Linked DNA regions of Homo sapiens. The protein of the gene in region 4 purifies or fractionates together with the protein of the main gene of each other region. This does not show direct contact. Each region holds a gene or a part of one and is shown on either strand. Other genes may lie near its edges. The genes, in order: ITIH2, TMED5, P4HTM, LIPG, GALNT18, ARL8A and NAAA.

Evidence for each region.
Region 1: the proteins of LIPG (region 4) and ITIH2 purify together in Homo sapiens (affinity purification with mass spectrometry; one large-scale study listed by BioGRID and IntAct). This does not show direct contact.
Region 2: the proteins of LIPG (region 4) and TMED5 purify together in Homo sapiens (affinity purification with mass spectrometry; 2 studies listed by BioGRID and IntAct, with this or other methods). This does not show direct contact.
Region 3: the proteins of LIPG (region 4) and P4HTM purify together in Homo sapiens (affinity purification with mass spectrometry; one large-scale study listed by BioGRID and IntAct). This does not show direct contact.
Region 5: the proteins of LIPG (region 4) and GALNT18 purify together in Homo sapiens (affinity purification with mass spectrometry; one large-scale study listed by BioGRID and IntAct). This does not show direct contact.
Region 6: the proteins of LIPG (region 4) and ARL8A purify together in Homo sapiens (affinity purification with mass spectrometry; one large-scale study listed by BioGRID and IntAct). This does not show direct contact.
Region 7: the proteins of LIPG (region 4) and NAAA purify together in Homo sapiens (affinity purification with mass spectrometry; one large-scale study listed by BioGRID and IntAct). This does not show direct contact.

The regions. Positions count from the first base shown.
Region 1 is NC_000010.11:7,706,316-7,709,815, forward strand, and holds part of ITIH2 (inter-alpha-trypsin inhibitor heavy chain H2 precursor), read left to right. Parts: intron 1-885; coding exon 886-918; intron 919-2,706; coding exon 2,707-2,876; intron 2,877-3,500. UniProt on the Homo sapiens protein: May act as a carrier of hyaluronan in serum or as a binding protein between hyaluronan and other matrix protein, including those on cell surfaces in tissues to regulate the localization, synthesis and degradation of hyaluronan which are essential to cells undergoing biological processes.
Region 2 is NC_000001.11:93,156,414-93,159,913, reverse strand, and holds part of TMED5 (transmembrane emp24 domain-containing protein 5 isoform 1 precursor), read left to right. Parts: intron 1-1,028; coding exon of another isoform or gene 1,029-1,099; intron 1,100-3,430; coding exon 3,431-3,500. UniProt on the Homo sapiens protein: Potential role in vesicular protein trafficking, mainly in the early secretory pathway. Required for the maintenance of the Golgi apparatus; involved in protein exchange between Golgi stacks during assembly.
Region 3 is NC_000003.12:48,993,241-48,996,740, forward strand, and holds part of P4HTM (transmembrane prolyl 4-hydroxylase), read left to right. Parts: intron 1-3,344; exon of another isoform or gene 3,345-3,500. UniProt on the Homo sapiens protein: Catalyzes the post-translational formation of 4-hydroxyproline in hypoxia-inducible factor (HIF) alpha proteins. Hydroxylates HIF1A at 'Pro-402' and 'Pro-564'.
Region 4 is NC_000018.10:49,593,057-49,596,370, reverse strand, and holds part of LIPG (endothelial lipase isoform 1 precursor), read right to left. Parts: 3' UTR 1-3,314. UniProt on the Homo sapiens protein: Exerts both phospholipase and triglyceride lipase activities. More active as a phospholipase than a triglyceride lipase.
Region 5 is NC_000011.10:11,612,006-11,615,505, forward strand, and holds part of GALNT18 (polypeptide N-acetylgalactosaminyltransferase 18), read right to left. Parts: intron 1-3,500. UniProt on the Homo sapiens protein: Catalyzes the initial reaction in O-linked oligosaccharide biosynthesis, the transfer of an N-acetyl-D-galactosamine (GalNAc) residue from UDP-GalNAc to a serine or threonine residue on the protein receptor.
Region 6 is NC_000001.11:202,138,238-202,141,737, reverse strand, and holds part of ARL8A (ADP-ribosylation factor-like protein 8A), read left to right. Parts: intron 1-3,289; coding exon 3,290-3,370; intron 3,371-3,500. UniProt on the Homo sapiens protein: Plays a role in lysosome motility. In neurons, mediates the anterograde axonal long-range transport of presynaptic lysosome-related vesicles required for presynaptic biogenesis and synaptic function. May play a role in chromosome segregation.
Region 7 is NC_000004.12:75,927,514-75,931,013, reverse strand, and holds part of NAAA (N-acylethanolamine-hydrolyzing acid amidase isoform 1 precursor), read left to right. Parts: intron 1-3,500.

The DNA.
Region 1 (3,500 bases), on a different chromosome or scaffold from region 4:
AACACCCGACTTCTTGGATCTATTATTAACAGCTCACCAAACATTACATGTTCACCCACCACCCTTAAGCCATTCACTTTCAAAGGCAAGGGAATCGCCTTTGTTCATTTCCTCAGGACAGTCAAGTGTATGGATAATCTCCTAGCATGGTGGTTAAAAGCATAGAATTTTCTAGGTGCCAGTCACTGTGTTTGCCTCAGGGGTTACACTGTGGAGGAAATACATGAAAATCCCTGCTTTTATGTAGCTTAGTTTAAAGGAAGAGACAGACTTTAGTCAAATAATCCCTCAAATAGAATGAATCATTATGAAACAAGGTGAGCACTCTGCAGGAAGGAATATGCTGCTGCAAAAACACTTAGTAAAGGAAACCGACCTAGTCTTGGGGTGTTAGAGATTTTCACTGGAGGAATTCTGCTGGAGCTGAGATCTGAAGGGTGAGTAGGAGTTCTCCATATGGGGGTTGAGGAACCTAGCAGGGGCACTGCAAACAGTGGGAACAGCATGCCCACAGCCTCATGGCCGAATGGAGGATCAAAGTCTCCATTCAACTGAGTAAAAAATAGAGCAAATAGCATCAAGGGGATATACGCTACCCAGGATGCATTTGGTTGAATATTTTTATTTAAAAATTACTTGTTCTAGCATTATATCCAAGAATGACACACACGCCACCAGAACTGGTTGAGAAACTTATTGAGAAACTCACCAGTGGGAAAATAGTTTTCAAGAATATTCAATATTTATGTCTCAACTCCAGTGAATGAATAACAGCTCAGTATTGAAGAAAAATAAAATTTCTTTTTTGACTGAGAAAACGGTTTTGGCTCTCAAGGTAATAAGTGACATACAGTTGAAGAATGATTGTCTAACTTCCTTTCACAGAGAAGCCTTCCAGGAGAATCGGAAGAAATGATGGTAAGTTGACTTGATGTTGTTACAGATTGAATGATTTTCCTGTTAATAATTACCAGGAAATCAATCTGGGTGTCTCTTTTTTCTTCATCACCGAGTATTTACCTGACTTTCGAAATACTGCCTTGCCCAACTGTTTGCAAGTGTTTCTAAAATTCAGCATTGAAGAGTGCAGTCTTTACAGACAGGAGAGAGGCCACCAAGAGCTGAAGGGGCCCTTCTCTTCATTTTCTTGAGTTTTGCCATATATCATAGGTTCCTTCCCACTGTATAAATTTATGTATTTATTCCTACTCAACCTTTTTGATTTATGTATTTATTTTTACGTTTTCATTTTTATTTTTATTTTTTTGAGACAGAGTTTCACTTTTGTTGCCCAGGCTGGAGTGCAATGGCATGATCTCAGCTCACTGCAACCTCTGCCCCCTGGGTTCAAGAGATTCTCTGCCTCAGCCTCTCAAGTAGCTGGGATTACAGGCATATGTCTCCTCGCCCAGCTAATTTTTGTGTTTTTAGTAGAGATGGGGTTTCACCATGTTGGCCAGGCTGGTCTCGAACTCCTGACCTCGGGTGATCCACCTCCCTCAGCCTCCCAAAGTGCTGGGATTACAGGCATGAGCCATTGCTTCCAGCACCATTTTGATTTAAAGTATGACACCTGACAGCTTTGGAAAATAAAAGAGTGCCCGTGGAAAGGAACTTTTAAACACAAAACGGCCCAGTTCCCTGAGATGTTCAGAGTAGACCATCCTGTGGCAAGAAAACAGCCTGAGGACAAGTGGCTTATGTTGTGCTTCCTGCCCTGAATTGGCAGAAACTGCCAGAAGTGCACACTTCAGGGGGAGGAAGGACACATAGATTAGCCTGGATTTTATTTTAGCTTGAGGTGAGTTGCATGGTTAATTAGTCGAAAGGTTTAATGTTGGACTACAAAGTTTGGGGAATGAGACCTGGTATTGAGATAAGTAAATTCTTTTGGAGAAAAAAGCAAAATCTAATGGGTCTCATAGTTGTCCATAGACCTGAAGGAGCTTGCAGCTCTCAGTCACCTCCTGAAAGGTGTGGGTTTCTAGGACCTTGCCTTTGAGCACACTTACATATGTGATTCTTCACACAGGAGCTGCTTTAAATCAGTAGTGATCGGGTAAGGAGGTCCAGAGTGTTGGACCAATACTTGCATCAGAATGCCCTGTCCAAGATCAATGTCTCTTGCTTACACCCGTCACTGTTCTCCTAGCTTGTTTTGACTTGGGGGAGGAGAAAAGGACTGCAGATGAAATTGTAATAGAGGAGATTAAAGAAGGTAGAGAGCTGTAAGGGGGGGTTGGTGGAGGCCATATGTGTGTTTCCACCCCACAGCACCCCTGTGTGACCCCTACTAAAGATACAACCAAGTTCCTCTTTCAACCTCGCAATCCAGTATCCTCTCCCCAGCTGATGGTCTTGCATTTGGAGTTATTACCTGGACTTCCTCAATCCAATCTGGCTTCCCACACCGTTTTCTACTTGTATTCTAATTTTTGAAAAATCATTATTTATAGACTCATAGGGCTGAAAAATGCCTTTTAGCTCAAAGTATCTTGAAACCAAGGCAGACTTCTGCTCATTGCGGGTTCCAAGAAGTTAGGAGAATGCTTAACCATACATGAATTCTGTCCTTACCAAGGCCCTGGAATTGTTCTGCTAGTAAAACAAGTAAAATGTAGTGTTGTTAACATCAAATGCACTACATTTGATGAAGTTCTGTGTGATTTTTCTATCAGTACAGTTATGCTTTCTTGCCAATTTCAGGAAGAGGTTGATCAAGTAACTCTTTATAGCTATAAAGTCCAGTCTACTATTACTTCTCGGATGGCCACCACCATGATCCAGAGCAAAGTGGTGAACAATTCCCCGCAGCCTCAGAATGTCGTGTTTGATGTTCAGATCCCCAAAGGAGCATTCATTTCCAACTTCTCCATGTGAGTAACTTCTGTGTAGAGCCAGAAATTGTAGGTGCTCTACTCACAGAATCAAAACCCCTCATAGTTAGAATGGACTTTAGTGGTCAACTGTCCCAGAGGACCGGCTGGATGTCAAGGGTCATTGTGAGGTTGGTCCCAATAATTTTCTCCTCTTCAAAGCGTTAGAACTTGTGAATTATTTGCTTTTTGTTTCTAATAAGCTAAAGCAAACTTAAGGCTATCTCTGTGGTAACAACCTCATACTTACTTGCATTTTAATATACTTTCTAGGGAGGAGAAAAATATACTGGGTTGCCCTGGCTTATAGGAAACCACATAAGAGCGTGTGCACAGCAGGTCAATGCCATCTGCCATATGTTTCTCTATGGGAAAAAAAAAACAAGTTGAGAACCACAGATTAAATCTAATTACTTATCCAGTGCTTGACCTCCTCTATAACACCGCTGACAAGTGTGTGATGATTTCCTTGATGATAAACTCACTTTTCCCAAGGCAATCAACTCAGTGATTGACAGCTCTGTTAAGAGTCCTTTCTTATACTTCAAATATTTTCCACTTTCTACCCAATGACTCTAGTGATAATCACATAGAATTTTTAAAAAGCTCTCTACAAAATACATA
Region 2 (3,500 bases), on a different chromosome or scaffold from region 4:
TTTTTTCTGTGCTTTGGTTAGTAAATTAGTATTCCCCTGGTATTCCATTCAATCTATCGTGGCATTTTAAACCTGCCTTCTGGCCAGCACAAGCTTTCTATTTTAACTTAAAGCTACTGTTCCAGGTATATGTCTTAAAGTTTCTTGAGCTGCTGGCTATATGCCATTTTTGTCCATAGTTTTCTTTCTTAAAACAGGACAGTATATCTTTGTGTGTACGTAAATTTTTTTTTTTTATTCAGACCTCATTCGTTTTAGGTAATTAGAAGGCCTGAAAGTAAAAGATCTGATCATAGGGAACTATATAAAAATAAAATACTTGTTATAACTCTTTGAGTTCAGAGTTCAGCAAAAGACCATATATTCTTCTTCTGACACCTCACTTCCCTCTTTTCATATCTCACTGGTATGTTTCCTGGTTCCATTCTATTATCTTACTATAACATTTTCTTAAGTCAGTTTTGTTATATGTTTAAACTGTGAGTCTGTAGGAAGAAGAGCAAATATGGAGTATCTAGTATTTGCTATAAACAAGGGTTGGCATGTTATAGGCTTCTAAATTAATCTTTCCATTACACTATGAGATAGAGTCTTTGACTCAAGATTCCCATTTTATAGACAAGGAGGCTCAGAGAAGTCAAATAAGTCTCCAGGGATACACATGCAGGGTGGAGACAGGATGGACCAAAACTCTTTGCTTTCTACCATATGCTTAGAACATCCCTGGTACATAACACTATTGTAAGAACTAGCTATTATTAAAATTATTGGTCTTTGTTAACCAAAATGCCTGATACATAATCGATACTCAGTAAACACTGAATACATGTATGAATGGATGAGAGGAAAAAAATGTCTCAACAATAATTTTTTAAGATACTCATTTAAAATGCATTTTAAATGGCATTTTACCTATGCAGAGCTCAGAAAAATATTTGCATAAGCTATTACTAAATAAGATAGAAATAGTAATTTTAAAAGTCAGTTTATATTGATATACTTGGAATTAACTGTTTTCTCTTTGATAGGTGTATAAGAAGTAAAAATGGGCCAGGCACTGCGGTTCACGCCTATAATCCCAGCACTTTCCGAGGCCAAGGTGGGTGGATCACGAGGTCAAGAAATTGAGACCATCCTGGCCAACATGGTGAAACCTTGTCTCTACTAAAAATACAAAAATTAGCTGGTCATGGTGGCACACGCCTGTAGTCCCAGCTACTTGGGAGGCTGAGGCAGAATTGCTTGAACCCCGGAGGCGGAGGTTGCAGTGAGCTGAGATGGCGCCGCTGTACTCCAGCCTGGCGACAGAGACTCCATCTCAAAAAAAAAAACAAAACTAAAAATGTAGTTCATCTTTTAAGTTTCAGAATTTTAAAAATGTTCAAAATGTATGTCAGTCTTTATTTCTCCCCAATTATTTGCTCCCTTTTTGAGATAATAAAATTCACTGTTAGAAAAATAAGTATCTTACTGCTTCCTTGTGTAGAATTACCTCTCATTAAATAATTGGGAGAAAATAATTGAGTTTATAATAGTTCACATTTATTGCATTCTTTTGATATGCCAGGCCAGTGTTCTCAGCACTTTTCATGTACTAATTTTTTTATTCTTAACCACAGTCCTATGACGTAAATATTATTTTACCAATGGGGAAACTGAGGCATAGAACAATTAAGTTGCTGAAGGTTACACAGCTAGTGAACGGCAAAGCCAGGATATACATTCAGGCAGTCCAACTCACTATTAATCACTATACCAGATTTACAAATTTTTTTTTTTTTTTTTTTTTTTGAGACGGAGTCTCACTCTGTTGCCCAGCTGGAGTGCAGTGGCGCGATCTCGGCTCACTGCAAGCTCCGCCTCCTGGGTTCACGCCATTCTCCTGCCTCGGCCTCCTGAGTAGCTGGGACTACAGGCGCCCGCCACCACGCCCGGCTAATTTTTTGTCTTTTTAGTAGAGACGGGGTTTCACCGTGTTAGCCAGGATGGTCTGGATCTCCTGACCTCGTGATCTGCCTGCCTCGGCCTCCCAAAGTGCTGGGATTATAGGCGTGAGCCACTGTGCCCGGCCTACAAATCTGTTTTTTAAACATTAAACAAAGCTTTTATCTTTAGCTATATTAATTTTGTAAGAGCAGCAAACATCTGAGTATGTCACTGGTTTTTCTTAAGTAGGCTTTTTCTTTTTCTTTTAAATGTAATTTCTTTTTTAAAGACAAGGTCTCACTATGTTGCCCAGGCCAGAGTGCAATGGTGTGACCATAGCTTACTGCAGCCTAAAGTACTGGGCTCAACCAAGCCTCCCGAGTAGCTAGGACTACAGGTGTGTACTCGGCTAATTTTTTAATTTTTGTAGAGACAAGGTCTCACTTTTGCCCAGGCTAATCTCGAACCCCTGGCCTACAGTAATCCTGCCTCAGACTCCCAAAGCGCTGTGATTGTAGGTATGAGCCACCGCACCTGGCCCTGCTTTTAACTTTCGCTAATATGGGAAACTAATTTTAACTAGGGTACTGGTAATTCAGATATTATTCATTTTTTTCTTCAGCACTTGGCATAATTAATGATGGGCTGAATTACCTTTATAGAATTAAATAATAAAATATAAACTAGTTTTATTTAATTCTCAAAAAAAGCATTTAGGATCAAACATAAACATCTATAAGGGAGCCAGTGGCAGTTAATAGGCAAAATCAGTAAGAGGCCTGGAAGAAGACATTTAGGACAATCCATCACTGCTTTTGAAAACAAAACTCAGTTTAATCTCAGTTGTAGGGTAGGTTGGCAGTCATATCTGCATATGAATTGAACTCATGATAAAATACTTTTAATAATGTATAAATATTAAAGTTTATTATGAGTTATGTATACAGGTTTTTAATTCTATCCTTTTCCAAAAATGAGGTCACTAACCATAATTTACTGAGTAAATGCCAAACATGTCTAAGTTGTACTTGAACATATATATTTTCAGGTTGCTTCTTTCCCAAGAAATTATAAATTATCTTTCAATACTAAGGAAATTTATGGGTAAGCTGTCCAATTACTATAAACTATGTTATTTGTTTTTTGTTTTGTTGGTTTCTTTTTTTTTTTTTTTTTTTTTGAGACAGGATCTTGCTCTGTTGCCCAGGCTGGAGTGCAGTGGCATGATCATGCCTCACTGCATCTTCAACCTTCCGGGCTCAAGCAATCCTCACACTCTGCTAATTTTTGTTATTTTTTTGTAGAGACAGGATTTTGCCATGTTACCCAGGCTGGTCTCAAACTCCTGAGCTAAAGTGATCTACCAGCCTTGCCCTCTCAAAATGCTGGGATTACAGGTGTGAGGCAACACACTCAGCCTGTTACTTCTTATTTTTACCTTTAGTTGCTTTTCATCACAAATAGAAATACAGGTAACTTAAAACATGTACTTTTTTTTATACAGTGTAGAGACTGAAGTTGGTGATTACATGTTCTGCTTTGACAATACATTCAGCACCATTTCTGAGAAGGTG
Region 3 (3,500 bases), on a different chromosome or scaffold from region 4:
GTGGTGAGCCAAGATTGTGCCATTGCATCCAGCCTGGGTAACAAGAATGAAACTCCATCTCAAAAAAAAAAAAAAAAAATCTGAGCAACGACTTGTGGGAAGTATGGGATAAAGCCAGATGACTGTCAGGAAAGAGGGGTCCAGGAAGGAACTAATACTCACCCCATTACTACTACACTACTAACGACTACTATGAACAGACACATCTGAGGAGGCACTGTTTTCTCTCAGCAGCCTTCCTGGGATCTGTATATATCTAATTCATATTGATGTTAGGTTAAGTAAGCCATGAAGCCAAAGTCTCCCTAATAAACAGCTTGTCCTATAAAGCAGAGAATGAGCCGGGCTTGGTGGTTCATGCTTCTAATCCCAGCACTTTGGGAGGCTGAGGCGGGTGGATCACTTGAGGTCAGGAGTTCGAAACCAGCCTGACCAACATGGTGAAACCCCGTCTCTACTAAAAATACAAAAATTAGCTGGGCATGGTGGTGGATGCCTGTAATCCCAGCTATTCGGGAGGCTGAGGCAGGAGAATTGCTTGAACCCGGGAGGCAGAGGTTGCAGTGAGCCAAGATCGTGCCACTGTACTCCAGCCTGGGTGACAGTGAGACTCCATCACAAAAAAAAAAAAAAAAAAAAAGCATAGAATGAGAAACCCAGATCTAAAGTCACCAAGGGCAAATTATGAAAAGCAGAAGAGATTTGACAAAAGGTAAACTGGTTCTGGTTAAGCCATCAGATGGATCTCTGTTTCTGCAGATGAACTTCAAAAGGCATAACCAAGAGATTGCAATCAATGATTACAGGAAGTCCAGATGTGTGAGAGGGAAGAGGGTGGTCATGGTGGGGCAGTTCCTGAATACTGTGGTATTGGATGACTACAAAGAAGGATGCCTCATCCCCAGCAGGAGCAGTGTCTGTCTTCTGGGCCTGCCTGTCCCTCTGTCCATTGGTCTGCTACCCAGTTATTCTAAATGGGCAAGCAGGGCCCAAGAAGAGTGGACCTGCTATAGATTCTGCCCCCTCTGCCATGCTGTTCTTGGATCTAAACCTGTGACCTGCCAGCTTCAGGGACCCAAGATACCTGGGATCGAAGAGTGGATGCTAAAGATGTGAGCTGGGGCAAGGGAACTGGGGTCCACCCCAAGGTGCCTCCATCTCTGTAGAAGGGAACCCTAGCACTTCTCAAGGAAGACCCCGTGCAGCCCCCAGTCTCTCCTTGAGAAATATTTCCTGTTTCCCACCCTTGTTTCTAAAGACACTTGGCAACTGGGACCTGGGCCACAAAAGGCCCACGCTTGAGCTCCTGGCAAATACTTCCATGACTGGTAGGTCATTTTCCCTTGGTAGGGAAATAAAGGATTTGGAATATTGGGTGTCAGCTGAGGGCACCATCCTGTTCAGAACAGAAGTGCTCCATTTCTGAACCATTGCCACCTCTCTGGGGACATTGCTTTCTTACATGTGGCCCACTTCTCCCGCTGTCCTACCCCACCCCACACTGATTCTGTCATAGCAGATCAGATCTCATGGCTCTCTCTTTTTGTTTTGTTTTGTTTTGTTTTGTTTTTGTTTTGAGATGGAGTTTCACTTTTGTTGCCCCGGCTGGAGTGCAATGGTACCATCTCGGCTCACTGCAACCTCCGCCTCCCGGGTTCAAGTGATTCTCCTGCCTCAACCTTCCAAACAGCCGGAACTACAGGCACCCGCCACCACACCTGGCTAATTTTTTGTATTTTTAGTAGAGATGGGGTTTCACCATGTTGGCCAGGCTGGTCTCAAACTCCTGACCTCAGGTGACCCACCCACCTTGGCCTCCCAAAGTGCTGGGATTACAGACATGAGCCACCGTGCCCAGCCGCTCATCACTCTCTTAAATGTCTCCAACATTTTCCATTTCACTTCTAAGTCTCATTTGATGCCTAAAAGCCCTCTCGCCTCTTAGACTCATCTCCTGCCCCCACCCCCGACTCCATTTACTCCCTGCTGATCCTCAGACACCACAAGCTCACTACTGCCTCAGGGCCTTTGTATGTACTATTCCCTCACTAAAAGGCTTAGACCTGGCTCTTCCCACAGAGCGTGCCTTCAGCTCCAGCAGGCCTCTGCTCACACATCCCATCCTCAGAGACCTCTTGTCCTCAAACCCATCTTAAAAGGTTCCCAGGCACCCTGTTGCATCAGCCTGCTGGGTTTTGTTCTCAAATGCTTAGGACTGCTGGAAACTATTTTCCGTATTTATTTGTGTCATTTGTACCTCTGCCCACAAAGGTGAGCTGCATATGTAAGAGGACTGATTTGTCTCAGCTGTGTGTCCAATGGCCAGAGTTGTATCTCCTGCTGATTTTTTTTTTTCTTTTGAGATGGAGTCTCGCTCTGTTGCCCAGGCTGGAGTGCAGTGGTGTGATCTCGGCTCACTGCAACCTCCGCCTCCTGGGCTCAAGCCATTCTCCTCCTGCCTGAGCCTCCTGAGTAGCTGAAATTACAGGCGCCTGCCACCATGCCCAGCTAATTTTTGTATTTTTACCAGAGGCAGCGTTTCACCATGTTGGCCAGGCTGGTCTCGAACTCCTGACCTCAAGTAATCCGCCTGCCTCAGCCTCCCAAAGTGCTGGGATTACAGGCATAAGCCTCCGTGCCCAGCCTCCCGCTAATTCTTGGCTGGCTGGAGGAGTTCACTGGGTGCTCTCAGCCCAGTCCAGCATCTGCCTGCTGGCTTAGAGCATCCTCCACGTATCCTTCTGACTTGGCACCCTCTTCAAAGGCAGCAGGGGGTACTACCAGTGGCCAGCAAGAGTTTTAATCCATTTTTCTTAACAATTTGAGGTAAATGAGTAATTGCCACCAGTATACAAAACAATTTATTTTAAAATCATGACTGCTTTATCTTAGGATTTCTAAATGTATTCTTTTTCAGCTTAAGAAAACAATTAGGCAGCTACATCAGACCATAGTCCTCCTCATGACAAACACTGGAGGCCCAAAAGTAGAGAAACAATTTTAGTGTGCGTATCAGTTCAAGGTTGTTGTTTTGTTTTGTTTTGTTTTTTGAGACGGAATCTCGCTCTATGGCCAGGCTGGAGTGCAGTGTGGTGCGATCTTGGCCCACTGCAACCTCCGCCTCCCGGGTTCAAGCAATTCTCCTGCCTCAGCCTCCCATGTAGCTGGGACTACAGGTGCGTACCATCTCGACTCACTGCAACCTCCGCTTCCTGGGTTCAAGTGATTCTCCTGCCTTAGCGTTCCGAATAGCTGGAAATACAGGCACCCGCCACCACGCCCAGCTAATTTTTGTATTTTTAGTAGAGATGGGGTTTCACCATGTTGGCTAGGATGGTCTCAATCTCTTGACCTCGTGATCCGCCTGCCTCAGCCTCCCGAAGTGCTGGGATTACAGGTGTGAGCCACTGCGCCTGGCTAGTTCGAGTTTTTAAGGAATTTAGCTCAGGCTGCTGCATTGCCACACACACCCCTGCTCTTTCATAGGCCTGCTGCTTGGC
Region 4 (3,314 bases):
TGAGCCACCGCACCTGGCCCTAAGGAGTACATTTTATTAGCATTTTAGTTTATTTAATATTCATTGTTCTATTTAAATTTTCTTATTCTAATTGTGACGTTTTACATTTTTTCAGTTTTTATACAGGTTTTGAATTTATATTTCATAATATCTATTAGCATGATGACTTTCACATTTATACCTTTTATTCAGATGGAATTCATTTTTGTTTTGGGGGGGTTGATGGTTTTAACTTCTACTTTAGTTTCAGGGGTACGTATGCAGGTTTGTTATGTAGTTAAATGGTGTGTCACAGGAGTTTGCTGTACAGATTATTTCGTCACTCAGGTAATAAGCATAGTACCCAATAGGTATTTTGGAATTCATCTTTGTTGCGTGTTAAAATAGGAATCTAATTTTGTTTCTCTTTGTCAAATGAGCCTACTTTCTCATCATCCATCCATTCCTTTCCCAAAGACTAATAGGCCCCTTTTATCATACATAAAATTTCCGCATATATGTGGAAAGGATTTTATTTTATTCTATTCTATTTTATTTTATTTTGAGATGGAGTCTCACTCAGTTGCCTAGGCTGGAGTGCAGTGGCGTGATCTCAGCTCACTGCAAACTCCATCTCCCAGGTTCGAGCGATTCTTCTGCCTCAGCCTCCGGCGTAGCTGGGACTACAGGCACGTGCCACCACGCCCAGCTAATTTTTGTATTTTTAGCAGAGACGTGGTTTCACCATATTGGCCAGGCTGGTCTCGCACTCCTGACCTCGTGATCCTCCCATCTCAGCCTCCCAAAGTGCTGAGATTACAGGGGTGAGCCACCGTGCCCACCCAGGATTTTATTTTTGTCTCACACTGTCCTCTTATCAATTCAAATGTTTACAAAACACAAATACTTTCTTTTTTACCATGTACCTTTAACATTCACAACAACCCTGAGCAGTATTGTCTCTGTTTCTTAAATGAGCAGATAGAGACTCAGAAAGGCTGTATTTAGCCTAAAACTCACATAATGCTGGATGACACACCAAGAATTCTGATTCCAAACTAACTGCTCTTTTCCCAGATTACCTCCTGCCTGTTTAAGCACCTAGTTTCTTATATCTAATTTCATCTATTTATTTAAATATTCATTGAATACCCATGATGTTCCAGACACTATTCTAGCTTCTAAGATAACGGCAGAAAACAAGCCAGATAAAAATCTGTGCCATCAGAGAGCTTACATGGCAGAGGGCTCAGGGTAGCTCTGAACACAGAGGTGACACCTGAGAAATACCATATTTGATGACAAAGACTGTTCTAGTACCTACTTTGTATCCATCCTTCCAAGGGGTCTGGGGCTTCAGCTTGTTTGGAGAGTCAAAGGAAGTCCTGTGGAAGTTCCCCTGACTCTAACTAGTAACTGAACCCCCAAGCCAAAGAAGGCACTTGCAGTCATCCAGGCTATGACTCTTCCTTTGGGAAATTTCAACAATTTTCTTTACTATGCCAGAGACACCATTTTCTGCTTTCCTCTGACATCTGAACCAAGTTAAGAACTTATCTCTTATTGTCTAACCCAACTCCCTACAGCCATTATCAAGCCTGGTTTCAGAATGTCCTGGTAGAGATGGACAGTGGAGTTTCCACCATCACTAAAGCCCTTTATAAAGAGCTTCCTTGTCATTTAGAAATGTTTTCACACTTAAGACCAGAAATAAAGTCAAACTGATGTAATGCATTATACTTCATAGTCATAGATCAATTTAAGATTACTAAAAATTGACTACAGGATTTAATCATTTAAAGGGTACTCTGGTCTATCTCGCTGGCTTTAGCAGAGAAAAAACTAATTCCTGATAAACGGATGGCAAGATCCAATTTCCCTTTTAATAAATAGTAATTGGTAGGGGGAAAGGGGAAATAGGGACGGAATTGTTAAAAGATACAAAATTACAGCTAGTGGCTGGGCCCGGTGGCTCACACCGGTAATCCCGACAGTTTGGAAGGCTGAGGTAGGTGGATCACTTGAGGTCAGGAGTTCAAGACCAGCCTGGCCAACATGGTGAAACCTTGTCTCTACTAAAAATACAAAAATTAGCTGGGTGTGGTGGTGCATGCCTGTAATCCCAGCTACTTGGGAGGCTGAGGCAGGAGAATCACTTGAACCCAGGAGGCGGAGGTTGCAGTGGGCCAAGATCATGCCCCTGCACTCCAGCCTGGGCTACAGAGCAAGACTCCATCTCAAAAAAAAACAAAAAAACAAAAAACACCAAACGAAACAAACAAGATTACAGCTAGACAGGAGGAATAAATTCTAGTGTCCTATACCACTGAAGGGTAAAACTAGAGTTAATAAAATATGGTTTCAAGTAACTAGAAGGAGGATATTGAATGTTCCCAACACAAAGAAATGATACATGTTTGAAAGGATGGGTATGCTAATTATTCCAACATGATCACTATACCTTGTATGTATCGAAACATCACTATTTTCCCCACAAATATGTACAATTATTATATGTCAATTTTAAATAAATAGTAATTGGATCTTCAGCAGGGCCCATGGGCACCCTAAATAAAGACTGTATTTCCCAGCCTGTCATGTGACCATGGATTTATTTCTGGCCAATAGAATGTAAGCAACTTCTCAGTCATGTCTTTAAGAGGAGACTGTTCATCCCTTCCCTTTTCTGGCTTTCCATTGGCTGGTAGGGGACCCCTGGGCTGTGGGGATGCGAGGAATACCCCATGAATGGCACAGTGAAAAACTAAGAACCTGCAGCCCTCTTGGCCTGTAGAATAGAACCTTACTACCAGCTGGGACTTTAACCAATAGAGAAATCAGCTTCCCTCTGGTCTAAGTCACTGATATCTAGTTCCAATTCAACCAAACCTAATAATCTCACTAATGCTCCCCAGTGTCCAGCCATGCTCCCTGTTCTTCCTAACATCCACCTTCAGGCCTTCAAGCTGCTACAATTGAAATAATTTTTCTTCTCGTCTTCAGTGAAATGATGTTCTTGTTCTGGTTCTTTAGTGAATTGCTGTCCACTTCTGCTAACGATGAGTGTCAAATAAAGAATATGCCTTATATTAGAGTAACTTTTTGTCAGACTCTAGGTTGGGGCAGCTATATTCTTTCAAACTTTAAGAATTGGCCAGGCACGGTGGCTCACACCTATAATCTCAGAACTTTCAGAGGCTGAGGCAGGCGGATCACTTGAGGCCAGGAGTTCGAACCCAGCCTGACCAGCCTGGCCAACATGGCGAAACCCCATCTCTACTAAAAATACAAAAATTAGCCAGACATGGTGACGCATCTCTGTAATCCCAGCTACT
Region 5 (3,500 bases), on a different chromosome or scaffold from region 4:
TGTTTGATAAGATGATCTCCCATTCCTCTCTACGAGAAACATTCATCCTCCTTCCTATTCTGTAGAGAGCATTGGTTTTGTAGCCAGTTTCCCTTCTTGGCTCTACCACCCATCAGCCCTGTGACCTACCTTGAACAAACTCTAAGTCTTCATTTTCTTACCTCTAAAAAGGTAAGAAAAAAGGTAATCTTACCATGTTGTGAAGATGAAAAGGAATCACTAATTTTAAAAATTACAATTTTATTTGTTCATTGAAATAAATAAATAAGTAATCATGCCTGGGCAGCACCTGGGCCAGTCCCTGACCTGCTAGCATACTGTAGCTCTCTTCCTCCATTCCCTTGATACAATCAATCTTTAATTCTCTATATGCCTGTTGCTCTTAAAATAAATCAAGGGTTTAGCTAGGATTCTCATTTGTCGCTTCAAATCTCTCCTTAGCTTTCTAACTCTCATATCCATTGGCCTAAGCAATTTTGGTACTGTTCTCCTAAATCCCCAGATGCCGCTAGCACAACATTTATTAAGCCAAGCTTCGAATCCTGTCTTGCCAGAGTCCCTGAATTACCTTCCTGCTCCTCTGGGATCTCAATGGCCTTTAACTCCAAGTTCCCAGGGGACAGAGATGGATGCACAAGTCAGACTGGCGAAGCCCAACAAAGCACCAGAGCTTGTTAAGATGCAGCACTCAACAATCTTAATCAGGGAACTCTGCTCTGAGACTTAAACTCAGTGCATTTGTAGAATGAACCTATTCACGCTAAAGAACTGGCCACAAGCCTCCTTGTAGGCATCATTTTTCATTGTTCTCACCTGTCCCAAGGTGAAGAGTGCAGATGCCACTTCTCTGGATCTTCCCAAACACTGTATTTCTGTGAGCTCTTAAAGGATGGTGGCAATGGAAAGTAGCCCAGCAAAGTATGCCTGTTGGTTCTAAAACCATTTTAGCAGTGGCTCCATAAGGGAAGCCACTGAATGTTTATGGTGGCTGGACACTCAGGGGTTTCCACTAGCATCATTAAGGACAGCTTCATCTCCCAAAAATAAACCTTCCAAAAACTGAAATTGAATGTCAGGCAGTGAAAGAGAACTACATCTCAGTACTGCATCCCCACTGGGACGAACTGTCTAGCAACATATTTTAATCCATAATCGTGTAGTCAGAAAAACCACCAAAGCTTAAGTGTTCATATAACAAGGAATCCTCTTGCTTAAAGTTCCAGTTGGCTGCACTGGAACTACAGGGGATCTATAAAAGGTATACAGATCCACAGAGAAGATTCCAGAACAGCAGTCATTCCCAATCACTGCCACAACATACTGTGCTGTGGAGCAGTTGTGAGGTAATTAGTGAGTAACAATAATTTAAGTACCAAAGCTTATGAATGATTAGCTTTAACTCTAATAAATTAAAGGGATTTCAAGGTTGTTACATTCCCTTGCATACTAATATGCCTTCTCAAGTAGGAAAATAAAGGGTGGAGTAAGAATGAATGCAATGTGTTAGGAGGTGCATCCTCCTAGCCCTGCCCTAGGGCACATGCCTTGTATGTAGGCCTATGTGTGAGGAAGGGGGAAACATCAAGGACCCCTGGGCTCAAGCATTGCATTACAGATGGAGCTGACTCTAACCCCAAAGGCAAGTGAGATTCAATAACAATTGTAGGAGCCATGAAATGACCACATCCCTGCCAAATCCAAGGCAGAAGCTCCACCCTTCAAGAGACATTCCAGGCCAGCATAAACAGCATGGTCCACCATTCATTGATGGTGGCTTAGCCACCAGTGGACCTCAGTCACTCTGCCTCTTGCTCCTGACTTGAGTGTCATCCAACTTGTATGGCTTCTGCCCTTCCGCTTCATGCATAATTCCATCTCTCCCCAAAGCCCACCATGCTGCCTTCTGGTTACATTTATCACTCACATTCAGCCGGGTTTTCCCTCCAGGAACTTTCTGTGTAACATCACCTCCAGCTGTACTGCTTGGCAATGTGCTTCTCCACAGGGCAGCCTGTCTGTCCCCATCTCCCAGATAGAACCCAGCTAACAAAAAGCCAAGCTTGGCTTTCTGCCACAAACCAAAGGAGACCCTCAAGACCCAAATCAAGACAATAGCTTTGTATTAGTCCATTTTGCATTGCTATAAAGGAGTACCTGAGGCTTGGTAATTTATAAAATTATAAATTTATAATTTGGCTCATAGTTCTGCAAGCTGTTCGAAGTCCAGCATCTGCTAGGCTCCTGGGGAGACTCCAGGAAGCTTACAATCACAGCAGAAGGTAACAGGGAAGCAGGTATGTCACATAGTGAGAGAGGGGTGAGAGAGAGAGGCAAGAGAGTGAGGAGAAGAAGAAGAAGAGGAGGAGGAGGAGGAGGAGGAGGAGGAGGAGGGAGGAGGAGCAGCAAGGCTCTTTAAACAACCAGCTCTTGAATGAACAAATACAGCAAGAACTCATTCATTACCAGGAAGACAGCACCAAGCCATTCATACAAACACCTCCCACTAGGCCCCACCTCAAACACTGGGGACCACATTTCAACATGAGATTTGGAGGGTACAAACATTCAAGCATATCAAGCACATTCAGCTATTCAAGTGAAGTGAGGTCAGAAATCCTATACGATGGTAATGAAGACGCTCCAGTAACCCTGTTTGTGACTCTGAATCCCATAAATACCTTTGGGAAAACATAGGCCAGCCTAACCCAAGTGACTAAAGCTGAACTTCAAGGCCCTCATAAATGACAAAACCAGACGTGGCTCTCTGACACTTTTCATTCTGAATTCTCCTTGAGATTCTCCACCAACCTACTTATCAAGGGAAAATAACAATTTATGTCAAGTGAGTGGGAAAGAATGTGGAATTCATTTATTTTACAGCCTACACACTTCTGGCTAAAAATGAAGATTCTTTGGTCACGGGGAAAAGTTGTGTCCTTTGGCAAGGCTTTTCTTCTTCATAAAGCTGTGGTTCTGAACTAGTAACAAAGGTAATTAGGCTCAACTCCTAAGTCCTGCTATTGAACTCTCTCAAAATGTCAATCACTGTTACTAATATAATTTCACATGCAACAGTTCATTCCAGAGGACAAATAGCTTTACTATTTAAATGACACTCTTTCCTCAAATAAACTCCATGCACTCAGCAAACATCATATCCTCTTCTTCACAAACGCTGCCAAGTCAAAGCTCAGATGAGAAGAACACGAGCCAATTCTAAGTAACATCCATAAGCTATAGGAGACAGAAAAACATCCAAGCTCAGGACATCTGCTGATTCTTAGCAACCATAAATGATTTGTAGTCATGGCGAACAACCTGCTGTTACTGACCTGGTATACATTAATATGCACATAATATGACTAACAAACTTTCAGGAAACAAAATGCAGTTAATAACCCATTTCTCCATTGTTGGGATGATCTTGACTCAATGAAGTAAGATAACGGATTTAGAAATTAGTCACATAATGTAATACATTATTAATCATGGTATTCAGA
Region 6 (3,500 bases), on a different chromosome or scaffold from region 4:
TCTTGGAGTGCCCAAGGGGACTTAGGAACAATGGGTGGACATTCTAGGAATGATAGATTTTTTTTTCTTTTTTTTCTTTTTTCTTTTTTTTTTTTGAGACAGAGTGTTGCTCTATCACCCAGGCTGGGAGTGCAGTGGTACAGTCTCGGCTCACTGCAACCTCCGCCTCCCAGGCTCAAGCAATTCTCCTGCCTCAGTCTCCCGAGTAGCTGGGATTACAGGCATACACCACCATGCCTGGCTAATTTTTGTATTTTTAGTAGAGATGGGGTTTCGTCATGTTGGCCAGGCTGGTCTCGAACCCCTGACCTCAGGTGATCTGCCTGCCTCAGCCTCCCAAAGTGCTGGGATTACAGGTATGAGCCACCATGTCCGGCCGGATTGTTAACTCAATATAAAGAACTTTCTGATAGTTGGAACTGACCCAAGAGGGGATGGGGCAGAAGGGACTGAAGTCTGAGACAAGAGGTTGGGCTGCATGACTTCAGGTTACTTCCAACCTTAAATGAGGAGCCTATGAGACAGGGAGGCATTAGCAGGGAAATTAAGTCATAATCTGATTCCACCTTAGCTCCGATTCACAGCTGAACAAGACCTACTGGTGCCGGGGAGCCTGGCTCCTTGAAGGTCCTCCCAGCATCCCCCTCTGCCAAGGTCACATTCTGCCAGGCTGGGCTTCTCATTTACTTGGTAGCCTGTGGATCTTCTAGTTGCCAAAGAGCAGTGATGGTTCCCCATGCTATATCGAAACCATTTCCAAGCATGTTGTGAGTCTTATTTACAGTTCCTAGGAGACCGAAACCCTTCTCCCCAGTTTTACATTCAGAAACACTGAGGTCCAGAGAAGTTCAAGTTTCTTATCCAAGCACCCCCTGGGATGAGAGACAAACAAGAACTGGGCCTCCTTCCTCAGACTCTATTGTTGGGGATGGGGTAGACTGCAGCAGGCTGCCGGGGTTTGGGTAATTACAGCACACTTAATTCTCCCTGCTTAGCTAGAAGAAGCCATTCCCTCTTCCTCAGTGGTTCCTAACTTTGGGGGCTCTCAGAACTTTTTGATATCTGAAAGAAGTGAGAGACCCTTTCTCCAGAAAAATGTACACACAAACAAAACTTTGCACACACACAGATTGTGTACAGTTTCAGGGGGTTCAGGGGATCTCTGAAGCCCAACTGTGGACCTCAGGTTGGAAACCGCTGCTGGACCTTGTCATTGGGTGTCAGTCCTGGGTACTCAGTTCTTATATCATCCTAAGGCCCTGATGAATAGGTGGTTCCTGCAGATAAAAGGGAATTGGGCTGGGCGCGGTGGCTCACGCCTGTAATCCCAGCACTTTGGGAGGCCGAGGTGGGCGGATCACGAGGTCAGGAGATCGAAACCATCCTGGCCAACATGGTGAAACCCCGAATCTACTAAAAATACAAAAAAAAAAAAAAAAAATTAGCTAGGCATGGTGGCACGCGCCTGTAGTCCCAGCTACTTGGGAGGCTGAGGCAGGAGAACTGCTTGAACCCAGGAGGCAGAGGCTACAGTGAGCCGAGATCACACCACTGCACTCCTGCCTGGGCGAGAGAGTGAGACTCCGTCTCAAAAAAAAAAAAGGGAATCAAAGCAGTCTATTCAGATGGGATATCAGGGGTCTTCATGTGGACATGGAGGCACCAAATAAGAGCCAATCATCTCCTACATCTTGGCTAATGGTCAGGGCCCCTGATCTCTTTATGTAACCCAAGGCAAATTATTCCTACCAGCTGGTGGGAGAAAAAGGCATGGTAAAGGAACAGGGCTTGGCCGGGCACCGTGGCTCACCCCTATAATCCCAGCGCTTTGGGAGGCCCAGGTAGGCAGATCACTTGAGGTCAGGAGTTCAAGACCATCCTGGCCAATGTGGTGAAACCCTGTCTCTACTAAAAATACAAAAATTAGCTGGGTGTGGTGGCACATGCCTGTGGTCTCAGCTACTGGGGAGGCTGAGGCAGGAGACCCTCGCTTGAGCCCAGGAGGCAGAGGCTGCAGTGAGCTGAGATCACATCACTGCACTCCAGCCTGGGCCATAGAGCGAGACTCTGTCTCAGAAAAAAAAAAAAAAAAAAAAAAAAAAAAAGGAACAGGGCTATCACCCTCAGGTTCAATGTTGAATGAGCCTCATCTTTTTTTTTTTCTCAAGCCGGAGTCTTGCTCTGTCACCCAGGCTGGAGTACAATGGCATGATCTCGGCTCACTGCAACCTCCACCTCCTGGGTTCAAGCGATTCACCTGCCTCAGCCTCCCAAGTAGCTGGGATTACAGGCACACGCCACCACACCCGGCTAATTTTTTGTATCTTTAGTAGAGATGGGGTTTCACCATGTTGATCAGGATGGTCTCAAACTCCTGACCTCGTGATCTGCCCCCTCAGCCTCCCAAAGTGCTGGGATTACAGGTGTGAGCCATCGCGCCCGGCCGAGCCCCATCTCTTTAGCCTGCTTCCAAGGGATAAGCAGAAGTGTCCTACCTGTGAACATGGAGATATGACCTGGGAGGGAGTTGGGTCTGGCCTTATTTGAAGACTGTAGGTAGTTTAGAAGAATCCAGAAATCCTAGAGACAATACAGAATGGATTTTGGAAAATGGAATTACAGTCAAACCCCCAGTATTCAGCAAACATTTACTAATGGTGTTACTATAGACCTGGGTCCTCTCCCAGGAAGTGTTCTTTCTAGTGAGGAGACACATAGATAAATAAGCAGACGATATAGAGTGTAGGTTATCCTTCCCAATAACTGGAGTACAGTACAAATAAACTGAACCATGGATAATCCAGAAATTGCTTGGCATGCACTGCATTTTCAGGATGACCAATATACTCTGCCCTAAAAAGTTTGATTTTTTAGTTTGAAAATTCATCTGCTTTCTTTGAGATCCTCCTTAACTATTAGAACATGACTTGCTTCAAGTTCTCTTGCTGGAAGGTAATTTCTTCTTCCTCTCCACTGGAGAGAAAGTGGCGTCAGTTACTACAGAGAGATGTAGGTTAGACTTGAGGAAGAATTTTCCCCTAGTCTAGGCAAAGAGATTGAGACTGTCTGACAAAAGCGGGTCTTTTCACAGGGCATCCCCAGGTGTAGGCGGGACACATAGGTTGGTGATAGCCCATCCTGCCTGAAAGCACAGGATGTGCAAGAGTACCCCACAGTGGGAAGTCTAGGAAGCTCTGGCCTGGCCTCTGCATGGTTCTCGCAGCCTCTTGGTCTGCGGTGGGGGCATATCGATTTTTGCACTGTTTCCCATTCTGAGTCTTCTTTCCAGTCAGGACAGTTCAACGAGGACATGATCCCCACCGTGGGTTTCAACATGCGCAAAATCACCAAAGGGAATGTGACTATCAAGGTGAGGGCCCAGAAGCTTGGGGGGTGCAGAGGACTGTTTTTGTGTGTGTGTGTGTGTGTGTGTGTGTGTGTGTTGGGGAGGGCAACGGAGGCCCCTGGGAGGAGCGAGCTGAAGTGGGGCAGAGGCCAGG
Region 7 (3,500 bases), on a different chromosome or scaffold from region 4:
GGAAGCTGTGATAGAGAGTGAAGGAGGAGGTGGGGTGGTTAGTACAGGTCAGAGGGTCAGAGAAGGCCTGACCCATGTGATCCGGGAGCTAGTTCTGCAGAAGCCAGGGGAAGACCATTTCTGGTGGTCTTACCGCAAGGATGAAGGCCGTAGGTAGTAATAATAAGCTTGGTGGATTTCAGAAGCCAAAGAAAGTCAGTGTGGTTATGGCATGGGAGTAAGTGGGTAGTGACATTAGAAGTGAAGAAGAGGCTGAGGCCATGGTGCAGGGCCACAATGAAGAGTTTGGTTTTTAAGCATAATGGAAGCTGTAGGGGGATTGTAGGCCAGGGAGTGAACAGATGTGATTTATATTTTTAACTATTACTTTTGCTGCTCTGTAGAGATTGGGTTGTTTTAGGTTAAGATGGAAGCAGAAGACCATTTGGAAACTACTGTGATAATCTAGGGGATATATGATGCTGTTATACAAGCCACATTTGTAAAGCACTTTCTGGTTTACCATGTACATCCTCACATGTCTTCTTCTTAGACCCTCACAACAGTCCTGTTAGGCAGGGCTGTTATTTTTAACTCCATTCGTTAGGCAGAGAAAGAAATAGGCTGTGAGATGAAATGACAGCTAGTAGTGGGAGAGGAAGTTCTCAGATTGCTCTCCTGGGTCCTGACCCAATTGCTCTGTTCATTGACATCCCCACTGCCATTCCCCAGATCTCAGGGGAACACCATTTAGTTCCACAGTATGTGGGAAATCTAGAAATAAGTGAGCTCTGTGTCTGTCCTCAGCGTGCAGCTGAATCAAGGAGAAGGATATATACAAGGAGTATCTTGAAGTTTAGTGTTGCTCGTCTGATGAACCCTGATTGACTTCATGGTGTTGTTTTTTTGGGGTTTTTGTTTTGTTTTGTTTGTTTGTTTTTGTTTTTTTGAGACAGTCTCGCCCTGTTGCCCAGGCTAGAGTGCAGTGGGCGATCTCAGCTTACTGCAACCTCTGCCTCCCGGGCTCAGCCGATTCTCATGCCTCAGCTTCCTGAGTAGCTGGGATTACAGGAGGTGCCACCACACCCGGCTAATTTTTGTATTTTTGGTAGAGATGGGTTTTCACCATGTTGGCCAGGCTGGTCTCGAACTCCGAACCTCAGGTGATCCACCCACCTCGGCCTCCCAAAGTGCTGGGATTACAGGCGTGAACCACCATGCCCGGCCAGTGTTATTGTTTATTCTTATCTTTTTACATAAGGCTTTACCAGGAAGATGGTGATTGAGTATATATCAGTGTCCACAGTAAGCAGTTCTTTATCCTAATGTATTTCTTCCACATTTTCTCATATGTCAGCTATGTATAGTACTGGTTCTCAACCTGTGGTACCCAAACCACAGCATGACAATTACTAAGGTTTTTAATAGAATGCCTATAATTACATGTATATTTATTAAAAATGACTGGCTTTCATTTTGCAACTCAAGTTGTTTACCAAACTTGATTAGTAGAATCTAAGGTATGAGCAGTTAAAAATAACCAAGTTAGTCTACAACATATGCATTTAATGAAATACTGTCAAACTGCTTTTAGCCAGGCATGGTGGCACCTGCCTGTAGTCCCAGCTACGTGGGAGGCTGAAATGGGAGGATGGCTTGGGCCCAGGAGTTACAGGCTGCAATGAGCTGTGATATTAAGTCTCTGGACATTATGGGGGGTGCCAGCAATGCCTCAAAGCCACCCTAGGAAAGGATAAAGATATGAGGAGGACTAATGAATGCCACAGGGCATGGGGAGGCTTAACAAAACACCTGGTGGGTAACACCTGAAGACTCCAGGGCCAGTCTGCCTGGGTTTAAATCTTATTGCTGTAGCTGGGTGACCACGATCAAGGAGTTTAACCTGTCGGTGCTTCAGTTTCCTCATCTCGAAAGCAGGGATGGGCCGGGCGCGGTGGATCATGCCTGTAATCCCAGCACTTTGGGAGGCCGAGGCGGGTGGATCACGAGGTCAGGAGATTGAGACCATCCTGGCTAACACAGTGAAACCCCGTCTCTACTAAAAAAAAAAAACACAAATTTAGCCGGGCGTGGTGGCGGGTGCCTGTAGTCCCAGCTAGGCGTGAGGCTGAGGCAGGAGAATGGTGTGAACCCGGGAGGTGGAGCTTGCAGTGAGCCGAGATCGCGCCACTGCACTCCAGCATGGGCGACAGAGCGAGACTCCATCTCAAAAAAAAAGAAAAAAAAAAAGCAGGGATGATAATAGCTGCTATGAGGATGAAATGAATTAACGAATATGAAATACAGCAGTCCCTGGCACAGAGCAAGGGCCACAGAAGTGTTTTTGTTGTTGTTGCATCTCCAGGCCTGGCCTCCTCTGAGTCCTAGACTGGAGCATCCAGCCATCTTCTCAGCATCTCCACTCTGACGTCTACTAGGCATCTTACACTTGCCTAAGCAGATCTCTTGCTTTTTTCTTTTCCCTATTTTCTACCCAACTCTGCCTCTACTCAAATCTGTCCCTCTCCTCGTTTCCCATGTCTCAGAAAATGGCACCTCTACCCAACCAATTGCTACCAGAAATCATCACTGACCCCTCACTCCCTAAGTCTTATCAGCTCTGACAGCAGAACTAGACTGTACCTGTCCATTCTACCTCCACTGCTGAGCTAGCCCCCATCACACCTGTACTGCCTGATTAGTCCACCTGATCTCCTTGCTACTATTTTTACTTTCTTATAATTCCTTCCCTACCCAGCAACTAGAATGGTCAGGTTGTTCCCCTGCTTAAAACCTACTGTGACAGATATTGCATGATTTCACTTATATGTGGAATCTCCAAGTTTGAACTCATAGAAGCAGAGAGTAGAATGGTGGTTGCTATGCACTGAGGAAAAAGGGAAATGGTCAAAGGGTACAAAGTTTCAATTAGACAGGAGGAATAAGGTCTGGTGATCCACACAGCAAGGTGAGTACAGTTAACAATCATGTATTATGTATTTCAAAATTGCTAGAGTGGGTTTTTAAAAATTAATTTTGTTATTGATACACATTACATGTGCATATTTTGGGAGCACATGTGATGTGTTACATTCATATAATCACATCAGAGAAATGCAAATCACATTTTTATTTCTCTTAATGATTAATGATATGGAGTATCTTTTCATGTGCTTACTGCCCATTTGTATATCTTCTTTGGAGAAATATCTATTCAAGTCCTTTGCCCATTTTTTTTTGTTTGTTTTGAGACAGAGTCTTTCTGTCTCAAATCACACATTCATAAATGCACGATCATGTGTGCACAATCTAATTGTGATATGTTACCTTAAATATTTGTCTTTTCTTTACACTAGAAACATTCAAATTCTAGCTATTTTTTTTGGCGGGGGGGGGGGGGGCATTAAAAATTTTTTTTTAATTTTTTTTTTTAGTAGAAACAAGGTCTCACTATATTACCCAGGCTGGTCTCAAACTCCTGAGCTCACGCAGTCCTCCTGCCTCGGCTTCTTCCCAAAGTG